3 separate regions of the Homo sapiens genome follow, and regions 2 and 3 are each linked to region 1. Evidence: fine-mapped expression QTL. A gene starts in region 1. Each other region holds a variant in brackets. All regions are shown on one strand. Distances are between the middles of the regions.

Evidence for each region. PIP is the estimated chance that this variant, and not a neighbour inherited with it, causes the effect. A credible set is the group of variants that fine-mapping cannot tell apart.
Region 2: its variant is the best candidate, but not a certain one, in a credible set for the expression of LIX1L-AS1 in lymphoblastoid cells (GEUVADIS, PIP 0.59).
Region 3: its variant is the best candidate, but not a certain one, in a credible set for the expression of LIX1L-AS1 in T cells (TOPMed, PIP 0.61).

Annotation. Positions count from the first base shown.
Region 1 is chr1:145,924,658-145,928,814 of GRCh38, reverse strand. It overlaps LIX1L-AS1 (LIX1L antisense RNA 1), which reads right to left and starts at 1,984. Exons shown (of 3, transcript NR_147182.1): 1 at 1,869-1,984; 2 at 1,346-1,751. It overlaps RBM8A (RNA binding motif protein 8A), which reads left to right and starts at 1,331. Exons shown (of 6, transcript NM_005105.5): 1 at 1,331-1,455; 2 at 1,738-1,797; 3 at 1,929-2,006; 4 at 2,197-2,333; 5 at 2,638-2,774; 6 at 2,888-4,157. The coding sequence starts at 1,389. The coding sequence ends at 2,933. It also overlaps the pseudogene GNRHR2. RefSeq lists enhancers at 1,075-1,224, 1,465-1,514, 1,317-2,256, 1,196-2,395.
Region 2 is chr1:145,878,250-145,882,411 of GRCh38, reverse strand. It overlaps ANKRD35 (ankyrin repeat domain 35), which reads left to right. Exons shown (of 14, transcript NM_144698.5): 2 at 3,024-3,154; 3 at 3,933-4,021. Among named protein-coding and RNA genes, the nearest start is that of ANKRD35, 5.5 kb to the left of the region's middle. RefSeq lists an enhancer at 3,581-4,162. The variant T/C (reference allele first, on the strand shown) is at 1,786.
Region 3 is chr1:145,988,790-145,992,951 of GRCh38, reverse strand. It overlaps TXNIP (thioredoxin interacting protein), which reads left to right. Exons shown (of 8, transcript NM_006472.6): 8 at 1-517. Among named protein-coding and RNA genes, the nearest start is that of TXNIP, 5.7 kb to the left of the region's middle. RefSeq lists an enhancer at 165-244. The variant T/G (reference allele first, on the strand shown) is at 2,437.

The DNA of each region.
Region 1 (4,157 bases):
ACCCCTGTCGTCCCAGATGCTTGGGAGGCGAGTTTCAGGCCAGCCTGGGTAGTATAACCAAACCCCTCTAACAAAAAGGGTTTTTAGGCCGGGCGCAGTGGCTCACGCCTGTAATCCCAGCACTTTGGGAGGTGGAGGCTGGTGGATCACTTGAGGTCAGGAGTTCAAGACCAGCCTGGCCAACATGGTGAAATCCCGTCTCTACTAAAAATACAAAAATTAGCCGGGTGTGTGTGTGTGTGTGGGGGGGGGCGCCTGTAGTCCCAGGTACTCAGGAGGCTTGGAGGGCGCCTGTAGTCCCAGGTACTCAGGAGGCTTGAGGCAGGAGAATTGCTTGAACCCGGGAGGCAGAGGATGCAGTGAGCCGAGACTGCACCACTGCACTCTTAGCCTGGGTGATAGAGCGAGACTACGTCTCAAAACAACAACAACAAGGATTTTTAGTAGGTATGTAACCAACTGATTTTTAAAATGATCACAGTACCTACTGTGGAGAATGAATTAGTGTCTCCTAATCGCTTTTTAAATTTTATTTTTCGTTTTACTCTTATTCACTTTTTTTTTTTTTTTTTGAGACAGAGTCTCGCTCTTGTCCCCCAGACTGGAGTGCAGTGGCAAGATCTCGGCTCGCTGCAACCTCCGTCTCCCGGGTTCAACTGATTCTCCTGCCTCAGCCTCCTAGGTAGCTGGGATTACAGGTGCACTCCACCACGCCCAGCTAATCAGCTTCCGTTTCTCGGGTTCAAGCGATTCTCCTGCCTCAGCCTCCCTAGTAGCTGGGATTACAGGCAGGGAGTTTTATATTTAAAAAAAAAATTGATATCTGTCTCACCAACCGTATTGCAACCAAGTCTGTTAGTTTCCTGAAGAGAAATTTGGTGCTGCAGGTTCCAGAAGCAGCTCTTTATGCCCTCACTGCTGATCAAACTATTTTTTAAAAACGCTCCTATCATACACCACGCTGCCTAAAGACAGGGTACAGGCCTGGGATTTTTGAAAGAAAAGGGTTTCTTCAATTACCATTTCCCAGTTTGGGATGAAGAGACGTAAAGAAGCCCTCTAATAAGGAAATTACGCCGGGCCTCACTGTTAATAGTACAGTATTTATCAGCAGCTGCCGCGGTTAAGAGGAAGCCACGGCCCCCTGTAGTCTGTACCTCCTAAGATGGATGATTTAGCTTGCGATCTGTTCAAGATGGCCACAGAAACACTTCCGGTATCTTTCCGCACTAGGCCCGCCCCAATTTGCGTGTTTTTACCGTGCAGAGGGAGGGATTTAGAGTTAGCCTTTGATTGGTCAGCTTGACTGGCGACCTTTCCCCTCTGCGACAGTTTCCCGAGGTACCTAGTGTCTGAGCGGCACAGACGAGATCTCGATCGAAGGCGAGATGGCGGACGTGCTAGATCTTCACGAGGCTGGGGGCGAAGATTTCGCCATGGATGAGGATGGGGACGGTGAGGACAGTGGAGACGGCTGGTGGGAAGCGGGGAAGGTGCGAGAGAAGGCTATAATAGGAAAATTTACTCTTTTTTCCTCGGTCGTAAGGATGGGAATCGAGGAACCGGGTCTTGGGTGGATTAGAGATTCCGCCCCCTTCAGGAGAAGGGAGGGCGTGACCGGGAAGGCACTAAGACTGGAGGCGGTGTGGGTCGGCTTGCTGGTAGTGTATTGGGAAAGAGACGATTGTTACAAATGACTGTCATAGTTACTTATTCTTTTATCTTCTGGGGTTCCAGAGAGCATTCACAAACTGAAAGAAAAAGCGAAGAAACGGAAGGGTCGCGGCTTTGGCTCCGGTGAGTGTGGGGAAAATGGGGTAGAGTGGCCTAGTAGGGCAGGAGCTACGGGTTTTGGAGTCCCCACCCACCTCATAGGAACAATGGGAGAAAGGAGGAGTTTTCGGTGATCTCGTGTATGTCCCTTATAGAAGAGGGGTCCCGAGCGCGGATGCGTGAGGATTATGACAGCGTGGAGCAGGATGGCGATGAACCCGGACCACAACGCTGTGAGTAATAATGGAACCTGTGAGGTATCCGTGTCTGTGGTAGTAGTTAGAAACCAATAAAATAGTTAAACGCAGTAGGAATGGGTTCAGAGATAGCTTAAACAATCTGAGTCCGCACTCACTCTATTCCTGTGAGCCTGCTTAAAGTGTCTCTCATGTACTCATACAACTTCCCCCCGTCCCCCAACAGCTGTTGAAGGCTGGATTCTCTTTGTAACTGGAGTCCATGAGGAAGCCACCGAAGAAGACATACACGACAAATTCGCAGAATATGGGGAAATTAAAAACATTCATCTCAACCTCGACAGGCGAACAGGATATCTGAAGGTATCCTAAGTGACACTTTATTGCCTCCTTTCTTTCATAAGCCTTAGGTAGCATTCGTAGTTCTGTGTTTGCTGTGGTTGGCCAAGAGCAAAGTTGAAATAAAATGACATTGGAAATCTATGTTTTGTCAGACACGCCAAAGAGACAGAAACGGAGATGATGTATATATACAGTAGAGATATATGATGTACATTCATTGTTTAAAGTGTGTAGATTTTTCTGAGTTTAGATTTGAGGAAAAAGATACTCAGTGATACTTGGGGAAATAGGAGGGTTTTCATATCTGTCTTTTCACTTTCCCCAGGGGTATACTCTAGTTGAATATGAAACATACAAGGAAGCCCAGGCTGCTATGGAGGGACTCAATGGCCAGGATTTGATGGGACAGCCCATCAGCGTTGACTGGTGTTTTGTTCGGGGTCCACCAAAAGGCAAGAGGAGGTAAAATGAAGAGGGCAAATACTGTCTGGGTGAAGGGAATACGAACGAAACAGAATGAGGACTTAGTATTATGTCCCTCTAATGGACTCCTCTCCCTGCTTCTTTTTCCCTAGAGGTGGCCGAAGACGCAGCAGAAGTCCAGACCGGAGACGTCGCTGACAGGTCCTCTGTTGTCCAGGTGTTCTCTTCAAGATTCCATTTGACCATGCAGCCTTGGACAAATAGGACTGGGGTGGAACTTGCTGTGTTTATATTTAATCTCTTACCGTATATGCGTAGTATTTGAGTTGCGAATAAATGTTCCATTTTTGTTTTCTACATTTAATGTTACTTTCCTGTCCTAAAATTGAAAGTTCTAAAGCATAGCAAGGCTGTATGGATCATTGTGAAGATACTTCTAGGGACTGAACTCTATGTATTTCTTTTTTTTCTTTTTTTTGAGATAGAGTCTTGCTGTGTTACCCAGGGTGGATTGCAGCTGATCATAGCTCACTGCAGCTTCAAACTCTTGGGCTCAAGCCATCCTTCTGCCTCACTGTCCCTAGTAGTTGGGATTACAGGCACATGCCACCATGCCCAGCTAAATTTTTAATATTTTTGTAGAGATGGGGTCTTGCTGTGTTACCTGGGCTAGTTATGTGAGTTTCTATATTAGACATAGTCTCAAGTTTCAGGTAGGGTTTAAAGTAGAGACACTGGTCAGTATTTCTTTTTTGGGGGGAACTAGGAGAGCAGGAGTAGAAGTGAGATGTTAAGATCTTATGGCACTAAAGACTTACTATTCTGTTCCTACATACTCTGTTAGGATCAGATAGATGTTATAGAAATGCCTTTTGTTTCTCCTGCCCTTCTTGATGTCACAGTTTTTTGTACTTCCAGCTGTCTAAAGGCATGAATCTCCTCTTGGAGCATTCTCCCAGACCCTTCTTTAGAAGAGTCTATACTAAGTTCTTGGTGCCCTCTTCGGCAGCCAAGGGTGAAGGCCCCATAGAGGAGAGGATCCAAAGGAGCATTGAGGAGGCCCAAGAGGAAAAGGATGTGGCTCAGGCTGGGAGGGACTTCAGTTAGCATGGTGGGGGAGAACCAGTACCACATACCCAGTAGGTAATAAGGTGTCCAGCAGAGGATGAAGGTCAGCAAGATAAGCAGGGCCAGTCTCAGGGCCCGGAGACGAACACGGGGACAATTGTCAAAGGAGCGGGGGAGGGCAAATTCACCAGCAGGGGCTAGGAATTTAGAAAATATACTGTAATTCAGACACTCAGCTTCTGATCTGAGTATAGGGTGAATTGATGGAGGGGCATAGCTAGTGAGACAGAGCTCGCCTCCTACAAGGAGGAGAATGTTGCAAACCGTTTTCCCCTTCCCAACCTGGGACTATAT
Region 2 (4,162 bases), 46 kb after region 1:
AGGTGGGAGGATCACCTGAGCCCAGAGGTCAAGGCTGCAGTGAGCCATGATCATGCCACTGCACTTCAGCCTGGGCAACAAAGCAAGACTCTGTCTCAAAAAAAAAAAAAAAAAAGGAAAGAAAGAAAAAGAAAAAAGAAATAAAAAGAAGTGGAAAGGGCCAGGCGCGGTGGCTCACGCTTGTAATCCCAGCACTTTGGGAGGCCGAGGAGGGCAGATCACGAGGTCAGGAGATTGAGACCATCCTGGCTAACATGGTGAAACCCTGTCTCTACTAAAAATACAAAAAATTATCCGGGTGTGGTGGCGGGCGCCTGTAGTCCCAGCTACTCGGGAGGCTGAGGCAGGAGAATGGCGTGAACCTGGGAGGTGGAGGTTGCAGTGAGCCGAGACCACGCCACTGCACTCCAGCCTGGGCGACAGAGCAAGACTCTGTCTCAAAAAAAAAAAAAAAAAAAAAAAGAAGGGGAAAGAAAAGTATCTATATTGCTAAGAAGCATCTTTACCATCTGTACAGCTTGGCTGTTATTCGCTGGCTAGTATCAGCAAGATCCCTTCCACTCTCCTGGCTGGAGAATTCTGAGCCCAGGAACATCTAAAATGTGCTCAGGAAGGATGGATTGTGCATCTACTATGTGACAGACACCGAGCTAGATGCCTTATAGGTTGTTATAGTATTAGGAAACTGAGGTTCAGAGATGTTGTTACATGCCTAAATTCACAGAGGCAGACAGTGTTAGAGTCAAGACTTGAAACATTTCGAGAACTGCAGGTTGACGTCAGCTGATGGCAGCACCCTGTCGTGGGGCATAGTTCTAGCTCTCTGCTTTCCTGGGGGTGACCTGGTCTCCAAAGGCCATTAGAAAATGCGTTCTTACATGTCAGAGTCTGTTAGTATGTGAAGGAGTCATTTTGCTTATTTTGTCCTTTGAGAGTTAACCTGTTTGGAGACTCCATGAGACAGTAGAGTCTGAGGGTGGGTGGCTTTGCCCTGGAGGCAACTTGAGACTGTTTATCTGGAAATAAGTAAACCTGTTTCTATAGCTTGTAGTAGTGTGGTCTGGTGGGGAGAGCTAGGATTTGGCATCAGGTGGACTGGGTTCTTTTTTTGTTTGTTTGTTTGTTTGAGATGGAGTCTTGCTCTTGTCACCCAGACTGGAGTGCAATGGTGCAATCTCAGCTCACTGCAACCTCCACTTCCCAGGTTCAAGCAATTCTCCTGCCTCAGTCTCCTGTAGCTGGGATTACAGGCACCGGCCACCACCCCCAGCTAATTTTTTGTATTTTTAGTAGAGACGGGGTTTCACCATGTTGGCCAAGCTGGTCTTGAACTCCTGACCTCAGGTGATCCACCCGTCTTGGCCTCCCAAAGTGCTGGGATTGCAGGCGTGAACCACCGCACCCAGCCATGGCCTGGATTCTAATTCCAATTTTGCCACTCTTTTTCGTGATCTTGAATGGTTATCTAATCTTGGTATACTTCTGTTTCTTCTGTCAAAGAGATGGAATAATAGCCCTAGCTACTTTCCAGGGATGTTGAGAGACTAATTGAAATAGCATGTGAAAGGACTGTGAGAAGTTACAACTTCTGTACAGGAGTATTACCTCAGAATCCATCTACCTTAGATAATTTTATGGTTTGGATATTTAGAGCTTTCCTGTGGTTGATTAATAATTTGCCCTGGCTACGTAAACAGTGTTTGAAAATGAGTTACTGGGCTTCCACAGACCCTATTTTTCTTCACCCCTTTCTATAGCCTCTTGTTGAGATTATACCTTATAAAA[T/C]GCTATGTGCCACCACCAACACCCCACTACTTCCTGTTTTGTTACAAGGATGCCATATATTTGTATGGCTCTTTACAGTTTATAAAGAGATTTTGTATATATTAGCTTGTTTAATAGTCACAGCATGATGAGGTAGTTGTTATTAGCCGTATTTTATAGAAGAGGAAACAGGTTAAAGGTGTTTAATGGCTTACTTTAGGTCACATAGCCGAGAATGTAGCTGAACTAGGTCCCAAACTCAGGCCAGCCAGCGAAATATTTGTCTGGCAGCCTTTACATCAGACCACAGATCTTTGCATCTGTCTCTTCCTTTTCATTCCCTTCTCTGGACAAAACCAGGCTTTTCTGTACTTTCAGCCCTGGGTGTTTTTACATAGCTGTCTCTTTTATGCCCTATAACACTTCAATTATTATAATTACCCTACCACCCACAAAACCCAAGCTGGAATGATAGAACAATGCATGCCCAGGTGTGGCTGTTGTCTAGACAGCTGCTCCCTGCCAGGGAAACTGGGAGGGAGGAGAAGGGGAGCTACCTCTTGCTGCTTCCTCAAACATAACTAGAAACCTCTTTGCCTTTTGGTTGTTGTTGCCATGGAAAGGAGAGAGACGGTCGCCAAAGGGCCTAGATATGATATGGGAAAACAGAAACTCTAGTTTCCTCTTTTAACTGTGGGGCCCAAAGCCAATGAAAAGAGGTGGAATGGTTAGGTATTGGAACTCCTAGCTGTAACCTGAAGCTCGGTGCCTTAATGTACTTCTCAAACAACTGACAACAAAAAGCAGAGCAGCAGGGTTTCAGGGGTGGAGGCGGTGGTGAGAGGCAACATGAGTCCTCAAAAGTGGTCACGTTGGTTCCATTTGCTCCAGCAAGACCTAGAGAGCAAAAGGGAAAGGATTGCTCTGAGGTTGGGCACTGAACAACAACTCTAATCATGATGACAAAAGGACATTTGAAATACTGTGCATTCAGCACTCAAATGATTTTTAATTCAGTGGTCCAGGGTCCTTCTGGCTCAGGGCTGGAAATAACCAGCAATAGTTCTTGGTGGCATATTAGCTGGTTAAGATTTAGCTAGGCCCACCTAAGAAGGACTAAATGATCTAGGATGTGTGACTTGTGGAAGAGAAAAAGGGATGTTCCTTTTCTCTCATTTGGCATCCTAACCATTTGCCTCTTTTCTTTCTCCACACTACCCTCATGCCCTATATTCACACAACCTGTGGCTCTGGACCAGGTGGAGAGATGGAACCGCCATGATCAGAAGCTGCTGGAGGCAGTGCACAGGGGGGATGTGGGACGCGTGGCTGCCCTGGCCTCCAGGAAATCTGCCCGACCCACCAAGCTTGACTCGAATGGCCAGTCCCCGTAAGTCAGTCCTCCTGCCCCTGCCCCTTACATGTGGCTCCCTTTTGAAGCCCCCAAATCCAATATAACATAGGACCAGGGAATGCCTACAACTTCAGAGCTCTTTTCATTGTCTTAATTAGCAAGTATATCAATAGTTTTTTGCTACATATAAGTTCTACACAAAGTGAGGAAAGAAAATATTGTTCCTGAGCTCCATCCATTGCACAACCCAGATTGACACCACTGACTTGTAAAGTACATAAAGCCCATTAAACAAACAGAAAATGAATATATACACTAAGTAGAGTGTTTCTTCATTGCACAAGTAGGAGGGTGTGTATGCATGGGAAATTTGAAATGAAGTGGTAGCATGGGAGTCACATGGCTAGAGGGAGTAGTGATTAAGTCAAAGGAAATGTTATCCCTTGTCTCTACCCAAAGCCTTCGAATGTCCAGCCTTCACTCTGCTCTGGCTGACTCTTTCTGTGACACTTCCACTTCCGCTAAGGTTCTGTGCTCAGAGAGGCAGGTAATTATGTGTTCCCTAGACACCCCTGCAATAGTCTGAGATTCCTTGAGACCTGTAGCTCTTATTTCTTCCTTGCTTTTAGCATCCTTTGTGATTGGAGGCCATATAGACTTCTCTTTCTCAGAAATTCAAGCTAGGGGAGCTTCTTTTCCTGCTTTTAGGATTGGCTTTGGGGTAGGGAGCATAGCAAGAAGGGCTTATCAAGATTCTCCCATTCCTCATCCCTGGTCCCTTTATCCTTTGGCCTCTCGGCCTTGATTCTGGCAGGTTTCATCTGGCAGCCTCCAAAGGCCTGACAGAATGTCTGACTATCCTGCTTGCAAATGGGGCTGACATCAACAGCAAGAATGAGGATGGTGAGTGAGCCGGAGCACTGGGCCACGCTGCTTGCTTGCCCCTGGTACAGCAGCAGTCGGGGGCGGTGCTGGGCCCTGCTGGACATTCCTACTGTGGCCCCTTGCTTCTCTCCTTAGTAAGTTCTGGCCAGCATCCTTCCA
Region 3 (4,162 bases), 64 kb before region 1:
ATTTTACTACTTTTGAGATTGCCCCAATGTACAGAATTATATAATTCTAACGCTTAAATCATGTGAAAGGGTTGCTGCTGTCAGCCTTGCCCACTGTGACTTCAAACCCAAGGAGGAACTCTTGATCAAGATGCCCAACCCTGTGATCAGAACCTCCAAATACTGCCATGAGAAACTAGAGGGCAGGTCTTCATAAAAGCCCTTTGAACCCCCTTCCTGCCCTGTGTTAGGAGATAGGGATATTGGCCCCTCACTGCAGCTGCCAGCACTTGGTCAGTCACTCTCAGCCATAGCACTTTGTTCACTGTCCTGTGTCAGAGCACTGAGCTCCACCCTTTTCTGAGAGTTATTACAGCCAGAAAGTGTGGGCTGAAGATGGTTGGTTTCATGTTTTTGTATTATGTATCTTTTTGTATGGTAAAGACTATATTTTGTACTTAACCAGATATATTTTTACCCCAGATGGGGATATTCTTTGTAAAAAATGAAAATAAAGTTTTTTTAATGGAAAAAAAAATGTCTGTGAGATGGCTTTGGAAAAGTTTTTGGAAAGAAGGTGTGTCTAAAGGAGTTTTCCTCTACTTAACAATCCACACTAATGAAAACCTTGTGGAGAAAACACTCCCTATGGACCCTAAGGAATGTCGGCAGAGTGGGGGCTAGAAGGTGAAGAGGGAAACCGTTTGAGGCATGTTTCAGATTCACTGAACAACTATACTGGGATTTTCCGGTTGTCTAAACTAGTTTTCCAAATCCATAGGTAATCATTACTAAATTCCTTCAGTTTTGGAGTTCATGGGTTCTTGAAATACAGGGAGATGATGTTTATGAGGGCATTTGAAAGAAAAGAGTGGCGGTTCCTTTTTTTGAGACAGTCTCACTCACCCAGGCTGGAGTGTAGTATGATCTTAGCTCACTGCAGCCTTGATTTCCTGGGCTCAAGTGATCTTCCCATCTCCGCCTCCCACATAGCTGGGCTACAGGCATACACAACTACGTTCAGTTAATTGTGTGTGCGTGTGTGTGTGTGTATGTGTTTGTTTTTTCTACGCTCAGCTAATTTTTTGATTATTTGTAGAGTTCGGGTTTTGCCATGTTGTCCAGGTTGGCCTCAAACTTCTGGGCTCAAGTGATCTGCTGGCCCTGGCCTCCCAAAGAGTTGGGAATACAGGCGTGAGACACCACACTCAGCTGAAGATCCCCTTTTTACAATATGGTTTTATCATAGGGTTTCTTCCCAATGTAAACTTGATTTATATACTAACAAGGATAACTTCAGGACTTAAGAGGTTATAGAGTTATGAGTATTAAATTCTTTGGAGGCAGCTAACCATTTTTTATTTTCACAGTTCCTAACCAAGCACATAACTCAGTAAATGTTTGCTAACTATTCAACTTCACCCTCATCCCTTAGATGATTTGATGGTTCCTATTCCTTGTAGGGTAATAGTAGTAGAGTAATACCACAATCCCATGTTTAATTGGTGTGATTTTCTTTCTTTCTTTCTTTCTTTCTTTTTTTTGAGATAGAGTCTTGCTCTGTCTCCCAGGCTAGAGTGCAGTGGCCCAATCTTGGCTTAATACAATGTCCGCCTCCCAGGTTCAAGCGATTCTGCTACCTCAGACTCTTGAGTAGTTGGGATTACAGGCATGAGCCACCACACTCAGCTAATTTTTGTATTTTTAGTAGAGACGGGGTTTCACCATGTTGGCCAGGCTGGTCTCGAACTCCTGACTTCCCGTGATTCACCCGCCTCAGCCTCCTAAAGTGCTGGGATTACAGGTGTGAGCCATGGCGCCCAGCAGTGATTTTCATTCCTAAAGAACCGACAGGTGGAGAAACCCTGGGATGGCCAATTTAAATATTTGCACAGATCTGGTCCTGGTCCTTATTTGGGAATTGATTTTTCTGAGGACTTCCACAAACTAATTCCAAATAACAGGCTCCTGGAAATTCTACATGAAATCAGTGTGGGGTGTTGTAGCTCTAGCTACTCACAAGGCTGAGGCAAGAGGATCATTCAAGCCCAGAAGTTCTAGGTTACAGTGAGCTATGATTGCACCACTTGCACTCCAGCCTGGGGGACAGATTTTGTCTCAAAAATAAATAAATAATAAGCAAACTAAAATCAATGTGAATTTAACAGAAAGTGAGATTTAAAAGATCCTTTTCCATTTCAATCCTCATTTTTCGTTTATCTTTCATTTTCCATAGCACTCTCCTCCCTCTCTTTGTCTCTCTTTCATTACCAAAGTGTCAGTCTCTATTTCTCCCTATTGCCAGGGTGACTTTCACCTGAACTCTCCGCCCCTTTCTCACCTGTGCAAGAATTTAGTGGCTCCTCTCCTTCAAATCTGTGACCAGGAAATTAGGTCAAAGTTGATGGAAAAGTTTTTTCTGTAGCTTGTTTTCCAGGGCCTAGAGGGGTGAAGCAA[T/G]GATAAGAGCAGGCCAGAGAGCAGGACAAAGGAATGGAGAGACCATGGAGTACATGAGCCTGGTTGTGTGCACAGTTGGGCTACCAGTACCCAATATGAGAAGAGGGATGGCTTCGAAAGGATAGATAACTTTATACCCAAGGCCTCTTAGAGATCTGATCCTAGGGCCAGGCGCGGTGGCTTACGCCTGTAATTGCAGCTACTCGGGAGGCTGAGGAAGGAGAATCACTTGAACCCAGGAGGTGGAGGTTGCAGTGAGCCCAGACTGCACCACTGCACTCCAGCCTGGGCGACAGAGCAAGACTGTCTCCAAAAAAAAAAAGAGATCTGATCCTGGAAGGGCCAGAACATGGGCATCTCCTCCGGATACCCTTAATATCCTTTATCCAGCTGTCCAAATAGAACTTTCTATGATGATGGAAATTTTCAATACAGTAGCCACTAGCCCTGAAATGTGGCTACTATGACTGATAAACTGATTTTTTTTCTTATCTTTTTTTTTTTTTTTTTAGATAGGGTCTCATTCTGTCTCCCAGGCTGGAGTGCAGTGGCACAATCTTGGCTCACTGCAGTTTTGACCTCCCAAGCTCAGGTGATTCTCCCACCTCAGCCTCCCAAGTAGCTAGAACTACAGGCACATGCCACCATGCCCAGCTAATTTTTTCTATTTTTTGTAGAGACAGGGTTTCACCATGTTGCCCAGGCTGGTCTTGAACTCCTAGGCTCAAGCAATCTGCCCACTTCAGCCTCCCAAAGTGCTGTGCACACATTTTTTTTTTTTTTTTAAACAGGGTCTTGCTCTGTCTCCCAGGCTGGAGTGCAGTGGCATGATCTCTGCTCACTGCAGCCTCCACCTCTCAGGGTCAAGTGATTTCCCATCTCAGCCCCCTAGTAGCTGGAACTACAGGTGCATGGCACCAAGCCCGACTAATTTTTGTATTTTTCATAGAGATGAAGTTTTGCCATGTTGCCCAGGCTGGTCTCAAAACTCCTGGGCTCAAGCGATCCTCCCACCTCAGCCTCCCAAAGTGCTAGGATTACAGGTGTGAGCCACTGTGCCCAGCCTGTAACTGAATTTTTAATTTTGTTTAATTATTTATTTATTATTATTATTATTTTTTGAGATGGAGTTTCTCTCTTGTTGCCCAGGCTGGAGTGCAATGGCGTGATCTCGGCTCACTGCAACCTCCACCTCCTGGGTTCAGCGATTCTCCTGCCTCAGCCTCCCAAGTAGCTGGGATTACAGGCATGCGTTACCACACCTGGCTAATTTTGTATTTTTAGTAGAGATGGGGTTTCTCCATGTTGGTCAGGCTGGTCTTGAACTCCCGACCTCAGGTGATCTGCCCATCTCAGCCTCCCAAAGTGCTGGGATTACTGTGCCCGGCCCAATTTTGTTCAATTCAATTAAACTTTAGCTTTCTGTGACTAGTGACTGTCACATATGTGACTAGTGACTAGTGACTAGTGACTGCCATATTGAATACCACATCAAAATCTAAGGGAGTAAGCAGCTAGAGCTGTTCCCCCAGAGGAAACCTATCCTTCTCTTACAGCACAAAAACTCCACTCTACTTCTTTTTGCCTTGTGTATACAACTTCTACCTCACCCGAGGACATTTTCCGCGTACAGGCTTGCTTCAGTACACTTCCTTGGGGAGTGGCTTAGCTATTTCCCCACTTAAGTGGGGGAATATTCTGGGTCTTCTTTGCCTATCCTCTTCTC